Homo sapiens: one gene and its partners. The protein of the gene in region 4 purifies or fractionates together with the protein of the main gene of each other region. This does not show direct contact. Each region holds a gene or a part of one and is shown on either strand. Other genes may lie near its edges.

Region 1 (4,916 bases), about 14 Mb from region 4:
CCAGTATTATTGTTGTAGGTAGCTGTGGCATCATGTTACTTTACACGAAGCTTCTATCTAATTAACATCCCCAGATAACTGTACTTGAACCAAGTCAAGTCTCCCTCACCATTAAAGAGTATCTCAAAAACTCACCAATATTCTAGTCTACTAAGATCATTTTAAATTTTAAATTTAAGTTTCCTTTTCTTCAGGAAAACAATGTTACTTTTTAAAAAATTATAAGCTATAATTAAAAATTGTAAAATAAACTAAAAAATAAAAATTCTATGTTTAACTTTTAAAGATTTCTACCTTGATGTCATCTTCTGTGATATAGCCAGCCTGCACCACCCACCACGCCTCTATGGCAATTTCCACTGGCTTTATTGGTAGAAGATCACGGGCTGTTTTCCTTCTGAAGAATTTCTGCAATGGTACAAACATTTGAGAATTTGCAATCTAAAACTACCACTTTCTTCTTTCATCAATCATATCATAAGATTGTTTCTAATGGACTAAATAAATATCTTCTTAAAATCTTCATGTTTTAAAATCTTAACAATTCTAGATATTAACATATTGTATGAAGAAAGTCATTCTTAAATTGTTTCAAAATAAATTGTTTCAAAACACTAATTGTTAAATCCAGATTTACTTCCACAAACTCAAGTGAAACCCAAGCAGTGAAAAATGCATTTGAAAATGCAAACACTTTTTTCACCCACTAAGTGAACTGTACAAGTAGAATGAGCAAATAAAAAGACTAAGAGAACAAAAATAATTTTTAAAAATAAATGTTTTATGCATTAAAAATTTTAAATAATCATTTATGCTATAACCTAGAGAATACTGAGGAGTTTTTTTTGTATTGTTTCTGTGTTAAGTACATTTTATTTGGTCAAAGACATACAATTCATTATTTCTACCACTTAAAAAAACTAATCAAACTGTGTGATGAGGCCAAAACAATGAAAAAGAAAGTACTAACTTACTTTTGATGATCTACACTGATTCATAAGATCAATATACTGGTTTCTTCCTATGCCAAGAAGCCTTAGACCTGAAAAAAAGAGTCTTTCCTTTAAAAACATTTAACATATCTTGAAATCTCAATATGTTCACAAGCGATTGTAGGAAAAACCCGAGCTTATTTTCATCTTTCAATTACTAGTCAAATATCAATATCAAATTAAAAGGACGTCTTCAACCAAAACATAAATGAAAGCTAAACTTTGGGAGAGATGAATTCAAGATGACACTTCTAACAAAAACATTTTAAAAAAGCAGAAGTCCTGCCAATTTTAGGAAGTCAAAATGTAATTCTCAGCGAAAGCTTCTTAAACAACAGAATTATGACACATTCAAAATATACACTTTGCCAAAGTAAGCATACTAAAACAGCAGCAAGTTAAGTTACTAAAAACTGTATGTCACCCTGCAAAAATACTGTGCACAAGTTTTCCTCCCACATTCAATATACACACAGCCCAAGTATCAGAAAGAACTTCATTCTCTGGAAATATATAGATTAGTCTTATTTTTCTGATTCTACCACTCTCAAATATGCCTCTCTTAGACATTTAGAGTAAATCTTACACATGCATCTGGTATCATCTGATAAAATTCTCACTGATAATGTTGCTTACTGTTCTCATTTTTCACATATTTCAGGTTAAAAACACACATGACAATATTCACAGATGACAGGATGCACAAAGACACAACCTAAACATTACCTTCTTCAGCACAATTAAATACTTACAGTCAGCAGCAGTAAAATTGGGCAATGAATCATAACTTTTCTCACTGTTCATAATATCCTTTTAAAAAGAAAAAAATTTAAATTTGAAATCTAAAATGTCCTTAAATAAAAATGTGTATAAATACAATATTATTACAGCCAATAACAATGATTATTACAGGAAGCAGTAAGATCATAGTTTGGCTACCTAGAGCATACATGCCACCCTGTGGCACTTTCCACACATGTTCCCAACCTAGTAATTAAAGGGCAGATTTTCAGGTCTAGGTTTCTTAAGAGGCTCTCTACGAATCCCAGGCAGCTGCCCCATAACCTCTGCCCTGTGGAAGCTATGTAAGTAATGGCTCCATTAGAGCTCAGGGTTCCAGCCTCTCCACATTTCATACCTGATCCTAGATCTCCACCATGAGAGAAAGCCAAATAATGTGGCACAGCTCCATCAACATGCACTACCAATGAAGACTACAACCACTTAGTGGCCTTTGATCCCACAAGTCCCAATCTGTAGAAGAGCTAAACTTGGTATCCAGCTTTTTCTGCCCCAATCTGTTTCTCCAATAACAAACCCACTGCTTCCTGTGGGGATAAGGCCCGTTTTCTACCGAGGAACTATACCCAATGATAGAATAACAGAAACCAGAATGCAGCAACCATGTGGATGTAACTGAAATGAAAGCTGATAAGTGAAACAAAAACTCCACCTATTTTAGCTCCCAAATTTGTGGACTACACTAGAAAAATAAAGAGACAGCAGTAACTATTCTACTTCCTGATTAGCTGCCACCTTCATTATGCTACCCTGGTTCTTCACTATGCTACCTGGGCTATCGGGCCTCTCGCTTTCCTCCAGTATTTCCTCCAAAAGAGGAACACGGGATGCATGGGACTGCAGAAGCACCCATGAAGGAGGGGCTTCTGGAGATAACGAAGGGAGCAAACAGCAAAGCACACATCGTATGTAGGGCTAACCTCATGTTACCACACGTTCCCAACTCCTTTAGTTCTAGGCTCCTCTCTGCTCTTCAAGCGGCTAGTGAGCCCCAAACAGAAGCACTCAAACATAATTAAGGAGCAAATGAATACTAAATAAATACTGCCAATCTTTAATAAAGCTCACTTGAAAACAGTATATAACTAGTATTAAAGTTATCCAATACAAGCCTAAAAGCTGTCTTTGGAAAAAGGCTAACAACTAAAAGTTAATAATTATAGAAAGAGATTAACAGCCAAGACTACTAACATATTTCTCTTTTCTGGCACCTGTATTATATAATGTTGGGTCTATGTCATCATTCATTCTTTAGACAGTTAGTGAATAGTTAAATACATTAATTTTCTTTTCTTTTCTTTTTTTTCTTTTGAGACAGTCTCACTGTGTCACCCAGGCTGGAGTGCAGTGGCGCTATCTCGGCTCACTGCAACCTCCACCTCCCAGGTTCAAGCGATTCTCCCCCCTCAGCCTCCTGAGTAGCTAGGATTACAGGTGCACACCACCACGGCTGGCTAATTTTTGTACTTTTAGTAGAGACGGGGTTTCACCATGTTGGCCAGGATGGTCTTGATCTCCTGACCTCATGATCCACCCACCTTGGCCTCCCAAAGTGCTGGGATTACAGGCGTGAACCACTGCTCCCAGCCTAAATACATTAATTTTCTCAGAACATAATGTTCAATTCTGTCACCCACATTTTCAACCTTAATCACGTTTTAAAAAGCAATAAATTTTACACAGACTCTGCCAACATAAATGACTGATCAGTACTACAACAGCACAAAGGGTCAATAGCACCTTCAAGACCAGAAGAGAAATAGACAGCTTCCCAATGTAAAAACATCAATAAGGATAAGTACTTGTACAGTGTGGCTCAAACAGTTAACAAGCCACCAATAGTCCTTTTTACACTATAAGTTCTGAAAGAGTGTCCACCGCAGACGACAGCTGAAGAGCTGGTGAACATCTGCAAAAAGTCCCAGACATGTAGTCCCATCCCATTCCCACTGGCTCACCCACACTGTAAACTCACCTCCATAATCCCAGTATAATATGAAAATGGTGTTATCCTCAAGCCTTTCACCATAATATCCGATAGATGGTAAGGGTACAGCATGAGATGATCTCGGCTGTACTTTAGCAGTTCCTCATAGTATCTGCGTTCATCTTTCTTGACATGTTTAACTGCACAAAAGAGGGAAATTCTCCAGTTTTTTTCAGGTTTCTTATAGTTATATATTAACTATGAACACTTTACAAACCAACAGTAATTTAAAAGAAAAGTATGTAAATTACAAGAGAACAAATAAAATATTCTAAGTTGGAACAAAGAAATATATCACATGAAATAGATTTTAGAGTATAGAAGTAAAATGAATAATAGGACAGATTAGTAGAGAATAATTCTTGCCAAATGAGAAAACAAGCATGGAACTACCAGCATGCCCCCCAAAAAGGTACAAAACAGAGCTTTATTGAATTGTATTCTACTACCTTACAAGAGAGCCAAACTGAATGCTCGTTTTCAATGAAGTCAAGTCTATTTTTAAAAATTATTTGCTGCTTTTTTAGTTTTTAAATGTAAAAAGCCCTCTGACTTTCATGGAAAATGTTCATGAAGAAAAACAATGTCAGAAATATTATGCTTAAAATAAGAGTAACAAACAGGAGTGAAAGACTACCAGGGCAACAGAATAGACTAACCAAAATAATCTGATAAATAAACAAATTTTTTTTTAGAAAGAAGAAAAAAAAATCATGGAATGAACTATGTTTAAAATGTGTCCCAATTATTATAAAGTTTTTCATATTATTTGGAAAATTTATGGAGACAACCCAAAGTCAAAAATTACTAAGAACTAATATACTTTTTCTTTTATGGCATATTTTCTTACCTCAGGCAAAAAGAGGACATTTGAATTAAGATTATTTTATAGATAAAATGAGTCCATAAACAGTACTCTAAAAATAATTTTTATCAGAATTAGAATGAAAAATCTACTTGCTAATACAAATTGTTGTTAGGTGGAATGGATCAGTGTAGAGTTTCTTAAAGTCTGTACATGGAATAATCTCAGTACTATGAAATATGTATTGAAAAGAAAGATTTACGAATGTGAAAGAGTAGTGGTCAGTTCCACCCCAATATAAACATGGCTCTACTTACCTAAGTTATTTCTA
Region 2 (4,916 bases), on a different chromosome or scaffold from region 4:
CCTCATTTCTCCACCACCAATTTTTCAAGGCACTATTCCCTTCACCTGGAATAGCATTTATATTTTGTGACTCTCACATTCTATCCACCAAATTATTTCTCAAAATTCAGTTGTTCTGAGAATGCTTCAGAGATAAAAGATCCTCAATCGTTAAGACAACCAATATTCAAACCTCTGGGTTTTCATTTTAGTTTGATCTCTCCCTGATGTGTCTTTTAGCTCTTTCTCATGTTCTTCCTGAATATATTTAGTCCAAAGATTTCTGACCCTTTGTGGGCTCCACATAAGAGTATGAATTAGTTTAAAATTATATGTAATTTCTTACTAAAAGAACATCTTTGGAAATTGCTCAAGTAAATATTTTAAATTGCTAAAGGTTATTTTGTCATTTTTTTTCTCTAGTTTTTCTTGCCCCTTCCTTCCCCAGTCCAGTGTTCCTTACTACCAAATGCAGAATCAGAAGAACAGTAGTTATGTTCAGTGAGGGAATCCAAAGAAATTCATTCACTCTCAGCAGTTTTCTATTTGTTCACTTAACCACTTAATTTCATCTTTTACTGCAAAGACCACCAAAACTGTGTGCTGCATCACTACTGTTTACCCAAAGTTGCCCAAACTTTAGGAAAGTGGAGAACCTTCCATAGATTTGGCCTGATTTGCAGCTGTGAGGGGAAACAACATATATACAGTTGGCAACCCTTGACCACAAACCAAGTTCTATTTACTGATAAACATTAGTTTGGATAGGCATTATTTCCTATCTCCAATGACATATTAACACATGCACACACCAAGATGAAGTTTCCCATCTCGGATGACACAGAAACACATGCAAGCACTGGGACGAATTTATCAGCAAAACAAAAGGAAAGTGCAATGGACTGTGAATGTTAGTGTACAACTCACTGTACTGCTTCAGGCAAATCACAACTTCTCTGTGACTCAATTTCCACATCTCTGAAATCAAAGATGATCTTTATAGCTCTGTGATTTTATTCTCCTCTGACCAGAAAAAAATTGTTTAAACACCTGAACATGATAATTTACTTTATTCCAGCATAAAATTCATAGTCCCAAGATTGATTGTCCACTGTTTAGTCTTTCCTAATGTCCTTTCCGGAAGTACTATCTTCCAAAATACTTCAGGAAGCTTGTCATAACTCAGGTTCTACAAGGTCAACGCAACCTACATAATTCCATTTGTAAAAAGGTGTTTTCTTGCATTGTGTAAATACTCAACCTAAAAATCATTCCAACTGCTGTGTTACCTCAACAATTTTTGAAATAGAATATTGAACCTTTGTTATTGTGATGGGAAGTTTCCTACAATTCTGGGTTTATCTCAAATAATGCGTGAAAACACTGATACTATTGAAAATGGAAACAGCTTCACTGCTTTTTTTCATTTTATCTAATGAACACAGAGGAAAGGCTTAGATCTGAAAAAGAAAAGGGCATAAATGAGACTCATAAGAGGGCTATTTGTTACAAATTTTAACTAGATGCAGTTTGGTTAAGGACACTAAGCAGGAATGTCAAATCTTTTTAAGATGTTTAAACATAATACGTTATTTCATACAATGAGTGGTTATCTGCCATTGGATTTCTTATGGTGCTTTATATACTAACACAGTGAGTTACAAGATGGTATAGATATATGGAATTGCATGCTTATTAGCCAAGCCATGACACAGAAGGTTATTTGCGTTATATGACATTGACTGAACTGCTGCTAAGCCCCAAAAAGATCATGCTGGCAACAACATAGTTCCAGGCATCAAATCCCCAGATATTGGTTCATTTTGTTTAAAGCATCACACACTGTATTCAAGTCGCTGCGAAGGTCCTGCACCACATTTTCAATACTTCTGGTGTCTTTCAGAATTTCAATACTCTGTGTGTAGGGATTGAAGTATACTGAGAAGGGACGGGTAATTGACTTTGCAAAGTCCCTGCAGAATAAACAGAAGTAGAAAGAGATGTGATCAACCCTCATTGGTACGAGGGATAGATAAAAGGAAGGAATAGAGACAGAAAAATAAAAAGTTATTTTCTCTAGCTAGGAGGAAAAAAAAGTTTACCTCATCTTTTCTTTGGCTTCTTCAAAACTTTCTGAAACAAAGTAGGCTTCCTGGAAGGTGGTGATAAGGCATTCCTGTAAGCAAGTTGTCTTTGGGTCAAAGGCTTTCACACATGCCTTGTCAGAAAGGGCGTGCTGCAAAATATACCACAAAACCTGTTAAACTCTGTAATGAGACTTCCGAAGCTCCATGACATCACATTTTTACAACACATTTGATAGCTCGGTAATCCTACAGAGCTGCTCAGTTACTAGTCTGTCATGAAATATGGAACTCTCCTGTGTGCAGGGTAAATTGGAAACTAGGATTTTGTTTGGTTGTTTGTTTGTTTTGCTTTTTTAAGTATGCTAGGTACTGTGGGAGAAAATGAGATTGTGGTATTATTTAATTTATTACCAGCCAAATTCATACTGAAGGACAGTTCAGAGCTATTCCCCCACAGAAATGGGATTTTAAATCTATGCTATGAATAGAAGCAGGGACAGCATAAATATGCTCCAAAATTTATTGCTATAAGCAATGTACTAAAATTTCACTTAAATGGCAGAAGTAATAATTATCTGCATGGAGAGGTAATTGGGGCTCTGACTAAACTATTTGTCTATTCATTGGGAGATATTTTGAGGCCAGGTACTGTGTATCAACAGAGTCTGGAGTGGGCCTGTATATTTGAGGATACTTAAAAAGCATTCATTTACCTTCCACCAAGTACAGCAGAGCAATATACAGCAGATAAATATTGCCACTTGAGGAAAAAAGGAGCTAATATTAATAGTCAGAGTTATGCCAAGAGCAGGTATTAGAAAAACAGGAAAGCTGGCGTAATTACTCTTTGAACCATCATTAGCTCCGTTCAGCTCACTACATGACTAGCACTAAGAACAGCAGGGAACAATGAATGACTATATTCTCAAGATAAATTCAGTGATGTTAAAAGTTAGTGGTCATTTCCTGCCATGTGCTGCCTATTTATAGACCCTAGATTGATGGTTCTAAAAATGCAATGTGCATAAGAATCACTGAGGAGCTTATGAAAATGCAGATATCCAGGGTCTCAATTTCATTTGGCAGGTCTGGATGAAACCTAGAAATCTTCATTTTAAAGGCATCCAAGTTGACTCCAATATAAGTGGTTGTGAACTATATATTGAGAAATACTCCTCTTAATTCTTTTTCTTAATTTAAGGGGGAAATTAGTTGGGAGAGAGAGGCAGAGAGAAAAAATGGGGTAGCAGAAACTGCCGTGAACTGAGAGTTGGAAAACTGGGGCTTTAGTCCAGGTCTAACTGGGTAACCTCAGCAATCATTCAACCTCCCTGTGCCTCCATTTCCTCAACTGTAAATGAGAGTTTTAGGCGGGAAGATTCTGAAGACAATCTCTATCCCAGCCTCTGGATTCCACCCATTATACTTTTCTACCTTCTCAGTCTCTAACAGCTAAGGTTTCCTGGAGAAATTCAGAAAACCCTTTCCTGTTCAATATTCTTCGTGCATTCCTCCAACAATTTCAAAATGCATGGAATGATTTACAGCCCTCCATGAAGAAGTCTGTGGTTCCCTAAGTTTGAAAATGCAATTGAGAACCAAAAGACTGACATGTAAGAGAAAGGGCACCCTGCATGTGATTTGCTTTCCTGCAAAGTTCCATTGTCCAGATAAATGCATATATGAATCACAGAATGCAGAGGGCCTCTCAGCGTGAACTCATTTTTTTTGGCCCACAGAACAACTTCATTATAAGCAGAAGGTCACTACACTTGCAAATGCATTTGTGCTAGATTCAATGCAGGGCAGTGAACATCAAGGGATTTTGGTTCCACATGACCAATAATTCTGTCCACAATTTTAGAAACATATTCACAGTTTCAAGAAACAAAATGTCCCTTTATGAAAGTTGTTGCCCCTCTGCAAAAAATTGGCTTCCTGTTGGCTTGCCATGATTTTCAGAATTCGAATTAGCTTTCTTTGCATCCGTACACTCTGGTTACATTTAATGTACTACGTTGTTCTAACAGTCCATTCATCCATCAGTACATATGGAAAGGACTGTGGCTGGCTCAATGTGTTTAGTCTTCCTACTCTCTCATCCCTGCATTCAGGGTCATGGCCAGAGTGGTAGCAGAATAGGCTGTAAGAACATTAAAGCCATGGCTCCCTTGGGACATCCTTGCTAAGCTAAAGACATTTCACTGGGTCAAGGACAAGCACAAGAAAGAAGTGAAACTCATCTGTTTGTGTCTCCATTGCTTCTATAAGACATTAGCAACCTTAGCAGTCACTATGTATAGAGGATGCCTCCAGAGGTGTGTATGCAATGACAGAGACTGAAATCAGTGTGGTTTTGGAAAAAATATCATTTTGTGACAATTCCACTGGATAGCCAGATACGTATTTAGTCATTTTAACAGCTAAAAAGCATTAAAGTAGATCAAGAAAAGGCCCAGAGCATACGGCACTCTGCCCCAGACTTCAAGAAAAACCAGTGGGTTCACACACATGTAATTTGAGGCAGGCCATTAGGAATATAGATCACGCTTGACCAATGTAACATTTAAAGGAAAAACTGGAAGTTAATTGTCTTAAGTTCTCAAAAACGCAGCCTACCCTCAGGAGTCTGCTATGCGTGTGATATGCTGGTTACCTGCTGGAGACCTTTCCACCCATGGAGTATGGGACCAGTGTTGCTGTTTGGCTGTTAATGAATATGGGGGTAATAATGGTACCCATGGATTAGCCTGGAGAATGACAAGAACCTGGAGATGGGGGAGCAGCCAGTGAATGAAGCCAACAAATGAAGTAATGTCACCCATATAAATGGCCTCATTTACCTGACCA
Region 3 (5,503 bases), on a different chromosome or scaffold from region 4:
GAATTTCATCTTCTTGATTTTGCACATCTTTAGGCAACACTGCCGACTTGCATTATTGTCACAGCAGTACCTAGCCTGGGAAGGAAGGTAGCAACATTGGTGGGTACTGACTCTGGAAAACAAAATGATCTGCAAAGACTGAGCCATGTTGCTATACTGCAAATTACTAATGTCCAATTTGGACTTAATACAGTAGTTTTCTGTTGACATTCCCATAAACTGGTTCAATTATTTTTAAATAAATCATATTTGTTCAAAAATCCTAGAAATAAGCAAAGATTTATTTTATGCTTGGCTTTATAGATATAATGCAACATCATTTACTATACATACCTGATGAGCAAAACTTTCTTTTGAAAAATCAAAACACTCACAAAATATTTTTCAAAACTGAGGTGTTGGAACACCTCAGTTTGCACAATTATTTTGGATTTACTTTTCATACAAGAAATGTTACTTGAAATCAATTTAACTCATTTAAGTTATATTTCCAACTAAAGTATATTCTATGTTTAAAGAATAAAAATAATAGGCCTCACTATCAAATAATCAACTATAATAATTTTATTACCTAAAATACATTTTTATATAACTGTATAAACCAGTTTTTTAGGAATCTCGAATTTCACTTATGCTAAATGCAACTGAAAATAAATATATGAACAAGAATCGTTTAGTAAAAATAATGCTGGTAAATTTTTATTAACCTCCTGCTATATAGAACAAAATATATATTAAAATATTTATAGAAAAAATTTTAGTTGGTATTTGCATTATTCTGTATTAAGAAACCACAGTTACATTATTCCTACAAAACGTTTTTTTCACATTTTTCTCATTACTGCTGGTGAAACTAATACAGGTAGTTTTATTAACATCTGTCACTTCCTATACATCCTAATTTTCTTAGTATTTATCTAACACTAATCAATATTGACTAGTGAACCCTTGATAAAAGTGTGCCTTCTTCTAGTACAAACTGATTCTTTCATAAAATATTTCATGCCCACTGTGTGCTAGCTTTTGTGTTAAAGACTTGGGATGCAAAGCTCATGGTGTAGCAAAGGCAAAACACAATTGCATTAAGGTTTGCTATGCAAGGTAAGTGCAATGACAGAAATATCCCTAGAAGGATTGTTTAAATCAAGCAGCAAAGTCAGTAAGAGGTACATTTCATTAAATTAAGTCCATCTCCTTTATCAAGAAGGTGATGGCTTACCACTTTCTGGTTTGCACTTCCCTATCTTGGCAAAGCAGTGTTGATAGGTATAGACAATATCAAAACATCTCTGAGAATGACAGTCATCATCCTGCTTCCTCACTTCACAAGGTTTAGCATCACTGCATTTAAACATGTCAGCCTAATCTAAGTTGGAAAATATAAACAAGTCCAGCTGTTGTTAAGACCAGACAGGTACATGGTAAGTAAAATAGGAACCAGAAATTTACAGCCTGACACACAAAAATTAGATTCCTAGTTGGGATTTTTAATCATAGGTAGTACATTTATTTTTTGGTAGACAGGCATCCAAATAAAAATAAGACATATCTAAAAGTATAAATGCTTACCATATTACACACTAAATTGGAAGGCAAGTTGATTCAGTATGTCATAAATCACATCTTTTAACTGTAACAGCATAAAATAAATAATAGATTTTTGATATTATATGCCAAACAATAATTAACATTTAAATGTCAATATGCACCTAAAAATAAGGACTTGACACACAGAAAAGGAGTGTATATTACATTTAAATTTGTAAGTGGTTATTTGCTACCCATAGTGCCTCAAGAATCAGATAAAAAAGACCGAGTTACTTAAACAATATGTATGTTCTTAAGAGTGACTGATAGGAAATCAAAGCACGTTCATTGTTTTCTCCCATACATCCGACAGGCTTTAAAAGAGGCCAAATACCAAAAAACTAAAGAGACATTATACATCACCCATTTTTGATATTCTGGTTTTATAAATATATCATTTCAACCAGAAGAGCCTCATTTGAAATGCAACACTACCCACGTATTTGATATACACCACTCTTTCAGACTATTTGTAGGTGAGTTCAATTTTTTCTAGTCAGGGTGACCTCATAAGACTTGGACATGGCCCAGCCTCGCTCCGAGGTGAAATCAAGGCAGTGGGATCACCCAGCAAAGTTGTTTTTCTTCTGCAGCCCAATGACAAGAATGACTAAAGCCAAGCAGAATGAAGATTGCCTAGCCTTTGTCAAATGGGATTGGTGAGGAGTTCCCTCTCTCACCAAGGAGTGGTTACATCCAGAGGAAAGCTGAGGTGCCACACAGTCTAAATCCTGAAATTGTGGGTCCTCAGGCACAAACCTCATCACTTTTGTGGACTACGAAATTGTCGCTGAAACCTGGGTTTGAGATAACAGCGGTTTTGAGAAGTTTGATTTATACATTCCAACCCACTTGAATGTCGTCTTAGAGTGCTGAGACTTGATGACTCTTACTAATCTCCCTCCCCCGCAGGCCAAACAGCCATTGCCTCCCAAATTCCAGCTTATATATTCATTTCTTAGGCAATTTTTCTCTTGGGGGAGGAAACAATGGACTCTTTCAATCTTCTCTTACCAACAAAGGGCCCTAGAAGAAAAAACAGTCCTTTCAATCACCTCCTTTATGACTTCTTGATCATGATGAGTGGGCCTTGCGGGTGGGGGGAGTGAGGGCCAGGAAAGGGAGAGGTGACAGGCAACTCACCTCTTTGAGCTGCTCCAGCTCCTGTTTGAGGCTGTCGTACTCAGCCTCCAGTTCATCATACTGCTGTTTGAGGGTCAGCTTCTCCTCCAGCACCACCAGCCCGTACTCGGCAGCCTGGATCTTCTCGTGGGTGGTCTCCGTGAGCTCCTTGGTTAGCCTCTCTATCTCAGTCTTATAATGGTCCACCGTCTGCAATACCTCTTCTGCGGCCATAGCCCCGGTGGATGGAGGCAGGAGGGGGTTACGGGGTGGGGGAGATGGATGCGAAGCTGGCGGGGAAAGGGAGAAGGAAATGGGAAGGGATGGGTGGAAACGGAAAAGAAAGTGCGGCCGGATGAATGAGCAGCGCGATGCCCCGCCGGCTCTGGTGGCAGCGGCAGCTACACCGCCCGAGAAACTGACGAGAAATGCAACATGGAGAACAGGGCAGAGGGTCAGGGGCGAGGCGGCAAAGGCCGCCGCATGTGTCCTCGGGGCCGGCCCCTGCGTGCGGTCAGCAGCCGTGCGGCATGGCCCGGGCTGCGGCGGCCGCGGGTAGCGAGGGGCTCCGGATTCTGCTTATTCAGAGACGCCCGTCCGCCATGTCTCCCGGGCCGCGTCACTGCAGTCTCGCCCTGGGTCTGGCGCGCTCCGGCTCGCGGCTCGCTCTCTCGCTCCACCTGCTCCCTCTGGCCCTGCAGCAGCCGGTGCGGAATGATGCAGTCTCGGGGCCGGCTCCCTCCCTTCCCGCGTGGCGGCGGCTCCGAGCAGGGGGCGGGGAGCGGATGGAGTCAGCGCGGGGGGCGGAGGGAAGGACCAGACGGAAACATCCCGAGGCGCCTCCCGCCGGGCGCGCGGGCCGCCGCCCGCTGCACCGTGAGGCGCGCCAGGAGGAGGCGCAGGCGACGGGTCTGGGACTGGGAAGCGGTGGGGCGCGCGCGGCGGGGGAGCCTCCGCCCTGTCCGGCTCGCGGGGGCGGGAGCTCCTCCCAGGGCTTTGTCCCGGTGGCAGTAGAAGACCCCGAGAGCGGCGTGGGCGCCCGGGCTCTTTTGCTACGTCGAGGGCCGAAGCTCAGGAAACTGCCTGGAACGCTTTCTCCCGAGAAAAGCAAACAAAACTATCGCGGTCGCGGTCCGCGCATCCTCCTCGTCCCCTGGGCGCGCAGAAGGCTTTTTGGGCCACCTGCCCCCAAAAGACCGCTGGGTTTCCCAAAGCTTTCAAGACGCACCCCAAGGCGCCCTCCTCCGTCGTCCCCCTCTCTCCCTGCCTCTCCCAAGTCTGGCCTGGGCCACCTAACACTCTCACCAGATAACCTTACTATCCTCACAGGACAGTCCGCTAAATATTGCTCGCCCTCACCCAGCGTATCACAAGAGCGCTATCCACTCAGAAAAAAAATATCTCCACAATACATGCACCCAGGAAACCTCTAGCTAGGTACTGTATATCTTGCCCCAATAGTTTCCATCAAAGCACCTTACTCTGTGTCTTCAATAAAGGAAAACTGCTTGAAATTCCCTATATAAGATACCAACGATGCCCTGTAATAAGCATTTTTTAAACAATAAGAGCTAAGAGTTCTTGAGACCCATACCAAGCATTCTTCTAAGTATGTAACATGCGTTCTCTCCAATCCTAACAATGCTTTGAGGTAAGAGCCATTATCCTCAGTTTACAGGGGGTGAAAGGCAAAGGGAGATGTGATTTGTCCAAAGTCAGGCAACTCTGGAATCTTAACTCGGGAGCACTAAACGGGATCATTATGTTGGCTTCAGGTTCACTCATTACTCATACAAACCCAGCAACTACATATTACATGCTTTTAAGATAATCACATTAATCCATATGAAGAGTGATGATGAACGGTTACAAAAGGAGGTGAAAGCAAAGTAAGAGTGGAGTAAATGAAAGAGTGGAGAAGGGTCGAGAATCAAGAGGAAGAACGCAACATGAGAGAAAAGAAGCAATTTCTGTGTAACGGGAGGCTGTGAGACCCACAGATCAGTGGGTCTTTCCAGTTCCCTCTCTTCTTCTGCATGGCACCTATTCCAGAGCTGTTTCTCAGTGACCAGGTGATGAACACACATGCGTTTTCTAAGTTAGAAAGCAGGACTCAACTCTCCCATCATTGTGTACCTGGTAAAAAAAAAAAAAAAAAAAAAAAAGATGATTGTTGACCGGGCACAGTGGCTCACGCCTATAATCCCAGCACTTTGGGAGGCAGAAGTGGATGGATCATTTGAGGTCCGGAGTTCAAGACTAGCCTGGCCCACATGGTGAAATCCCATCTCTACTAAAAATACAAAAATTAGCCAGGTATGGTGGTGCACGCCTGTGATCCCAGCTACTTGGGAGGCTGAGGCAGGAGAATTGCTTGAATCCAGGAGGTGGAGGGTACAGATGGCACCACTATACTCCAGCCTAGGCAACAGAGACTCCATCTCAAAAAAAAAAAAAAAAAAGGACACTTGTTGATGGCGTGGGAGAAAAAGCATATGACAGTGCCCTTCCAAAGTTTCCACTAGCAGGCTGTCTGGATGTGTTTTCCATTGCTTCACAAACCAGACAAGTTTCCTTCTAAACGCCAGCGATCACAACAGAATATTCTCATGTGATTGTCTGATCTAAAAATAAAACAAAAGAATATTCTCTTGTGATTGTCTGATCTAAAAATAAATAAATAAAAGGAGAAAACATTCCAAATGTGCAGCCACCATAAATTCCAGCCTTGTAGAGAAGCGGATGATAATGACTACAACATCCGACCCATCTTTCCTTATCTCGCACTCCAGGT
Region 4 (5,525 bases):
TAATCAGATTCAAGACCGTTATTACTTGGGTGGCATAGAGATCACTTGGTGGTTTATGCTATGTGTGGGTCAGGTGAATGAGAGAAAAAAGTCCACGATGACACTGAGGTTCTGACTTGGCTAACTCAGTGGAGGGTGTTTCTGCTATTAGGTCCCCAGTGTCAATTCTCAATTCTAAGTAGGGAACTCAGAAGCATCCATTAACTTTAAAAGTTTGTTCTTATCTCACAGTATATGATCCCAGGCTCATAATTTTAGGAATAATAAGTTGTATGAATCATCCTGGACCATCACTTTCCTGAGGTCCATATTTGAAACAGCTGTGGGTGTAGAAAGTATGAATTAATCACCTCTTCTTCCCAAATAAAGAATCTTAAAATTACCAACCTCACTGCTTGAGAGAGCTAAGTAGATTGAAAAGGCATGAAGATTTATGGAGGAAGCTCTCTTTTGGAGTTATAGGAAGAAGGGAAATTGATTCCACTAATCCTCTGGCTTCAGGCTCTCTCTAGACTCACAACATATATTCTTAGGCTTGAGAGTTGAGGACTCAGAAATGCTGTTTGGAGGATGGATGAAAGGGGACAATGACCCTCAGTTTTCGAGGAGCACAGTCCTCCTATGTAGGACACTGGTGCATAAGGATCAGAGTGTCGCACTGCTTGGAATATTCTCCAATTCTGAATAAAGGGTATATAAGTCATTATACATGGTGAATTCCACCACCAGATAAGATTTAAGGGTAGCAATTGTAATAAATCAAGGCCCTTGGCCCAGCTGATGTACCCTATTCTAAGTCCCCAGTTGGACAGATTTTCGAGCTTTCTTAAACAAATTTGTGTGCATCACAAATGCTTTTTCTGCCTGTCATGTAAAAGGCATCAACAAATATTGACTGGATCATCTGGACCTGACTTAGCTGCCCTTTGGAAAGTTCTGTTCAATCAGCTGGATAGAGCTGTTTGTTTTCCTCACCTAACCCTCACAGCTATCCTAGAGGTAGGTATCACTATTATTATCCCTCAATTTAACAAGGGTAAATTTGAAGTTCAGAAGGGTCAAGAACCGTAGGCGTAGGCCACGCATGCAATGGCATCCGCATGTAATTCGAGCACTTTGAGAGGCCTGGACGGGATGATCCCTTGATCCCAGGAGTTAGAGGTTGCAGTGAGCCCTGATCGCGCCACTGTACTACAGCCTGGGCCACAGAACGAGATGCCGTTTCAACAGCAACGGAAAAAAAAAAAAACAAAAAACGAAACAACAACAAAAACTTTAGGCATAAAGGCACTCAGGCTGAAGGGACCGATTGGAGTGCTGGCTTGAACTCGTTTTTCTGAGTTCAATTCCAGTGCTCTTCCCTTAGCAGTGTGCTGGAGCTACTTCCTGGAGCCGGGCAGCTGCAGGGCAGCGCTGGGGAAAAGACTGTTCTCTGGCTACATAGCAGCCTGGCTTCTCCAAGCCGGAGGGAGCTGCGCTGACCACTGAAGGCCTTTCTGATGCAACCCCTTCCAAGTAGAATCCATCGCAGCCTTTCAGATCCCGGAACCCAGAGGCTGTGTCGGTCCTGACGCACTGGCTTGGCTGGGCTCCGGTACGAGAGGGATCTCTGCAGCTCTCGGGCGAGGCAGTTGTGGGGAGCTGTAGGCTGACTTAAGACCTGGAGGCCAAGGAGGGGTGGCCAGGGGAAAACTTTCTCTATTTTGTCTCTCTGTGATGTCGCAGCTTTTCTCAGTCACTCCATCCAACGCCACCCACTTCAAACCTGAGATCAAGTGCAAAAAAAAAAGAGGGTGGGGTCACCCCTGGGCTGGAGATGCCGCTAGCCGCAGCCTGCCTACACCGGGCCGAGCTCCTTGGAGAGGGAGGGACACCGGCTCTGGCTGGGGGGGCGCGGAGTGCCGTGGGGAAATCGGGCGGGTGGGGCGCGCCCAGGCGCGGTCGAGTTGCCCCGAAGGCCGCAGGTGAGGGAGGGCGTGGGAGGCGCCCCAGGAGCTGCCTCTAGCGAGTGCGGCACCACGTGTCCGGCCGGGGCGGGGTCGGGCGTGCCCTCGGAGCCCAGAGCAATCGGCGGCAGTGGCGGCGGCGGCGCGTTGGAGCCTCACCAAGAGCCGCCGCCCGCAGCCCGCGCCGGCTCAGCGCAGTCTCCTCGCTCCGTGCTCGCAGGTGCCTCCTCCTGGACGGCGGCAGCGGCGGCGCGAGGAGCCGGCGGGCAGCGGCGCGATGGGGCCCCTCCGCGAGAGCAAGGTAAGGAGCGCGGGGCAGTGCGGGCACTGGAGGGCGGGGAAGGCGGGCACTGCGGGGCGAGAAGCGGCGGGATGAGAGCTGGAGGGGTGACATTTAGAGTCTGGGGAAAGGTGGAAGGAGGTGGTGGTGGGGTCTGGAGAAGGCAGGAGGCATTGCTTAGGAGTTGAGATCCAGGAGATGGGGAGGTGGTACTGGAGGAATAGATTTTGGAGAATGACATGATTGGAGGGTTAATCCCACCTCCTGAAACTGGGACTGTGGGGTGTAGCTTTCAGTTGATATCCTGTGTGTGTGATGTGAATGAAAGGAATTTGATGCATCCGCGACTGGGAAAAGAGGACTCCCGCGTGTCAGTGACCCTGCCTTAGCTCAGGGTCTGCGGTGTGCCCGGCGGAGTGGCTGGCGCATGGTACCTGCTGGGCGGCAGATGTGCAGGGCGAATCCGAGGCTGCGTGCGGCTGGCGGCCCCCGGGTAGAGTGGATGCCTGAGGGCCCTCCGAAGTTCCCCATTGCTGAGGTTTACCCTTCAATTTATGCCATGTGCCGGCCTCCCAGAGGTGTTTATTTTGGCCGTGACCCTTCCTGGTAAGCCGGTGGAAGGAACAGTAGGTCATGTTTCGAAAGGGTGTTTGTTACCTAAGCCAAAGAGTCCCTTTCAGTGGCAGAGGTTGGAGGAAGCAGTGGAATTTTTGCAAAACGCTCCTCCTAGGAATCCATTTTCATAAGGCAGGGTGGTGGTGACCCTGCAAAGCACTGGATTTGAATTTCGTTCTACTTCTGGCATGGTGTGCAGAATTGCCTAAGCATCTCTACCCCATTTAGCCTGTTTCCTCATCTGAAAATAGGGACATTCATTGGTGTGCTCTCTATGTACAGTCTGGTGTGTAAAGATCAAATGAGAAAATGGTTGGAAAAGCACTTTATAAGTTGGAAAACATTGTGAAAATATTACTGTTACGCATTTTTAAAACCACGAAATGGCAGGGTACTTCATGCTGCGTTTTTAAGGAGAAAGAAAAATCTCTTCTTATGGATGTCCTGTAAGGAAAACAAAAATTAAAGATGATGTAAAAGGTGGAGCCATCTTCCCGAGTATCGGATTTGTGTTTGCTTTTCTGTTGGCAACAAGCCTTGTGTACCAGGATATTAACGAATAATTAAGATCCTGTCCAGAAGAGGAGGGATTTTAAAGATAATTGTGTGTGAGCTATCAGGAAATAACTGTTCCAGGTATAGGGTTCAACTTTGTGAGGAGACAAGAAAACAAGTCAGACTGTCACAGCTAATTTAGGGAAAGCAAAATGGAAGTCTGAAGGCTATCAAGTAAGCCAGAGTGTGGTGTTAATAAAGAGCCTTTGGGAGGCAGAAGCTTGAATGTGATAGAAGTCAGGGTGGGAAGGTGAGTCAGGACCAGCATAGGGAAGTAGGATGGCCTTCCAGCTAGTGAGTGGAGGTGTGTATATGTGTGTGTGTGTGTGTGTGTGTGTGCCACACAGACATGTGCTATTCAGTAGATTAGAAAGGTTAACTCATTGGAAGAGTTTTGAAGCTCATTTCAGCAACTGAGATAAGAAGGACTACTCTGTGAAGACTCAATACTCAGAAATGTGATTTCTTAGAAATTGATCCTTGAAGGAACCGACAGGAGTTAAGAGAGGGAAACGCGTTTCCTTTTGTTTTCTTTTTTGATGTCCAATTTTGAGAAGGAGCACAGAGTGCAGCATCATGACAAGGAGATTTCTCGAAGCCGAATTCCCCGGTTGATTCTTCGGCCCCATATGCCCCAACAACAGCACAAAGTGTCCCCAGCCTCTGAGTCTCCTTTCTCTGAGGAAGAGAGCAGAGAGTTCAACCCCAGCAGCTCTGGGCGCTCAGCGAGGACCGTTAGCAGCAACAGCTTCTGCTCAGGTACAGTACCCTCGGGAGGCCACCAGAGGCGTGAAGCGTGTGCACTGCAGGTGCATTGTGAATGGGCCCATACTGGGTCCCTTATAGCCTAGAACTACACTTCTACTATTAGGATGAATTGTAGAAGGTGGTACATTTCTGGCTGTTGTGACCTACAAACACAGCAGTTTCATATAGTTCAGTTTATTGGAATCTCACACCTGAATTTTCATATGTTATTCTAGCTTATAATTTCGAATGTAAAATCTAACTTCTTGTTTCTATGACTTTTTTCCTTTGTTTTATTATACTTTAATTTCTGGGATACACGTGCAGAACATGCAGGTTTGTTACATAAGTATACACATGCCATGGTGGTTTGCTGCACCCATCAACCCATCATCTACATTAGGTATTTCTCCTAATGCTATCCCTCTCCTAGCCCCCACCCCCTGACAGGCCCTGGTATGTGATGTTCCCCTCCCTGTGTCCATGTGTTCAACTTCCACTTATGAGTGAGAACATGCGGTATTTGGTTTTCTGTTCCTCTGTTTAGTTTGCTGAGAATGATGGTTTCCAGCTTCATCCATGTCCCTGCAAAGGACATGAATTCATCCTTTTCTGTGGCTGCATAGTATTCCTTGGTGTATATGTGCCACATTTTCTTTATCCAGTCTATCATTGATGGGCATTTGGGTTGGTTCCAAGTCTTTGCTATTGTGAACAGTGCTGCAATAAACATACGTGTCCATGTGTCTTTATAGTGGAATGATTTATAATTCTTTGGATACATACCCAGTAATGGGATTGCTAGGTCAAATGGTATTTCTGGTTCTAGATCCTTGAGGAATCGCCACACTGTCTTCCACAATGGTTGAACTAATTTACACTCCCACCAACAGTGTAAAAACGTTCCTATTTCTCCACATCCTCTCCAGCATCTGTCCATTCCTGATCTTTTAATTACTGCCATTCTATGACTGTTTTTAAAGATGCATTCCTTTGTTAAATGTAGAAAAAATATTGGATTGAATTTTATACTAGCAACTTCTAGAAGCCTGTGTACCTCTAATTATAAAATTCCCCAAAGATAAAGCAATTCCTAATAAATGAGGTCAAGATCAAGGAGAGTTATAGCCTAAGGCTGGCCTGGCCTTATGGTTTAGTAGGGAAGAGCCCAGGCTTTGTGATCTGTCAAGCCTGAAGGGCTGGAATCCCTGGCCCTTTCACCACTTACATACTGTGTGACCTTCAGCAAGTTGCTTAACCTCCTTAAGCCTTAGTTGTTACATCCATAAAATGAGATTATAATACTTGCCTTGTAGAGTGGCTGTGAAGTTGAATGAGACCAGTACCTAAATGTTCACCTTACACGGTACCTGGCTTACAGA

The links. Proteins that work in one complex are often made in the same cells at the same time.
Region 1: the proteins of SYBU (region 4) and FAM91A1 purify together in Homo sapiens (affinity purification with mass spectrometry; one large-scale study listed by BioGRID and IntAct). This does not show direct contact.
Region 2: the proteins of SYBU (region 4) and TPH2 purify together in Homo sapiens (affinity purification with mass spectrometry; 2 studies listed by BioGRID and IntAct, with this or other methods). This does not show direct contact.
Region 3: the proteins of SYBU (region 4) and BICD1 purify together in Homo sapiens (affinity purification with mass spectrometry; 2 studies listed by BioGRID and IntAct, with this or other methods). This does not show direct contact.

What each region holds. Positions count from the first base shown.
Region 1 is NC_000008.11:123,774,151-123,779,066, reverse strand, and holds part of FAM91A1 (protein FAM91A1), read right to left. Parts: coding exon 4,903-4,916; intron 3,921-4,902; coding exon 3,769-3,920; intron 1,803-3,768; coding exon 1,745-1,802; intron 1,043-1,744; coding exon 975-1,042; intron 409-974; coding exon 295-408; intron 1-294. UniProt on the Homo sapiens protein: As component of the WDR11 complex acts together with TBC1D23 to facilitate the golgin-mediated capture of vesicles generated using AP-1.
Region 2 is NC_000012.12:72,028,557-72,033,472, reverse strand, and holds the end of TPH2 (tryptophan 5-hydroxylase 2), read right to left. Parts: intron 2,216-4,916; coding exon 2,082-2,215; intron 1,953-2,081; coding exon 1,778-1,952; 3' UTR 1,033-1,777; downstream 1-1,032.
Region 3 is NC_000012.12:32,104,772-32,110,274, reverse strand, and holds the start of BICD1 (protein bicaudal D homolog 1), read right to left. Parts: upstream 3,429-5,503; 5' UTR 2,944-3,428; coding exon 2,731-2,943; intron 2,614-2,730; coding exon of another isoform or gene 2,587-2,613; exon of another isoform or gene 2,385-2,586; coding exon of another isoform or gene 2,364-2,384; exon of another isoform or gene 1,631-2,363; coding exon of another isoform or gene 1,574-1,630; exon of another isoform or gene 1,467-1,573; intron 1-1,466. UniProt on the Homo sapiens protein: Regulates coat complex coatomer protein I (COPI)-independent Golgi-endoplasmic reticulum transport by recruiting the dynein-dynactin motor complex.
Region 4 is NC_000008.11:109,641,358-109,646,882, reverse strand, and holds the start of SYBU (syntabulin), read left to right. Parts: upstream 1-2,060; 5' UTR 2,061-2,166; coding exon of another isoform or gene 2,167-2,223; coding exon 2,224-2,247; intron 2,248-2,660; exon of another isoform or gene 2,661-2,754; intron 2,755-3,692; exon of another isoform or gene 3,693-3,935; coding exon of another isoform or gene 3,936-3,950; coding exon 3,951-4,155; intron 4,156-5,525. UniProt on the Homo sapiens protein: Part of a kinesin motor-adapter complex that is critical for the anterograde axonal transport of active zone components and contributes to activity-dependent presynaptic assembly during neuronal development.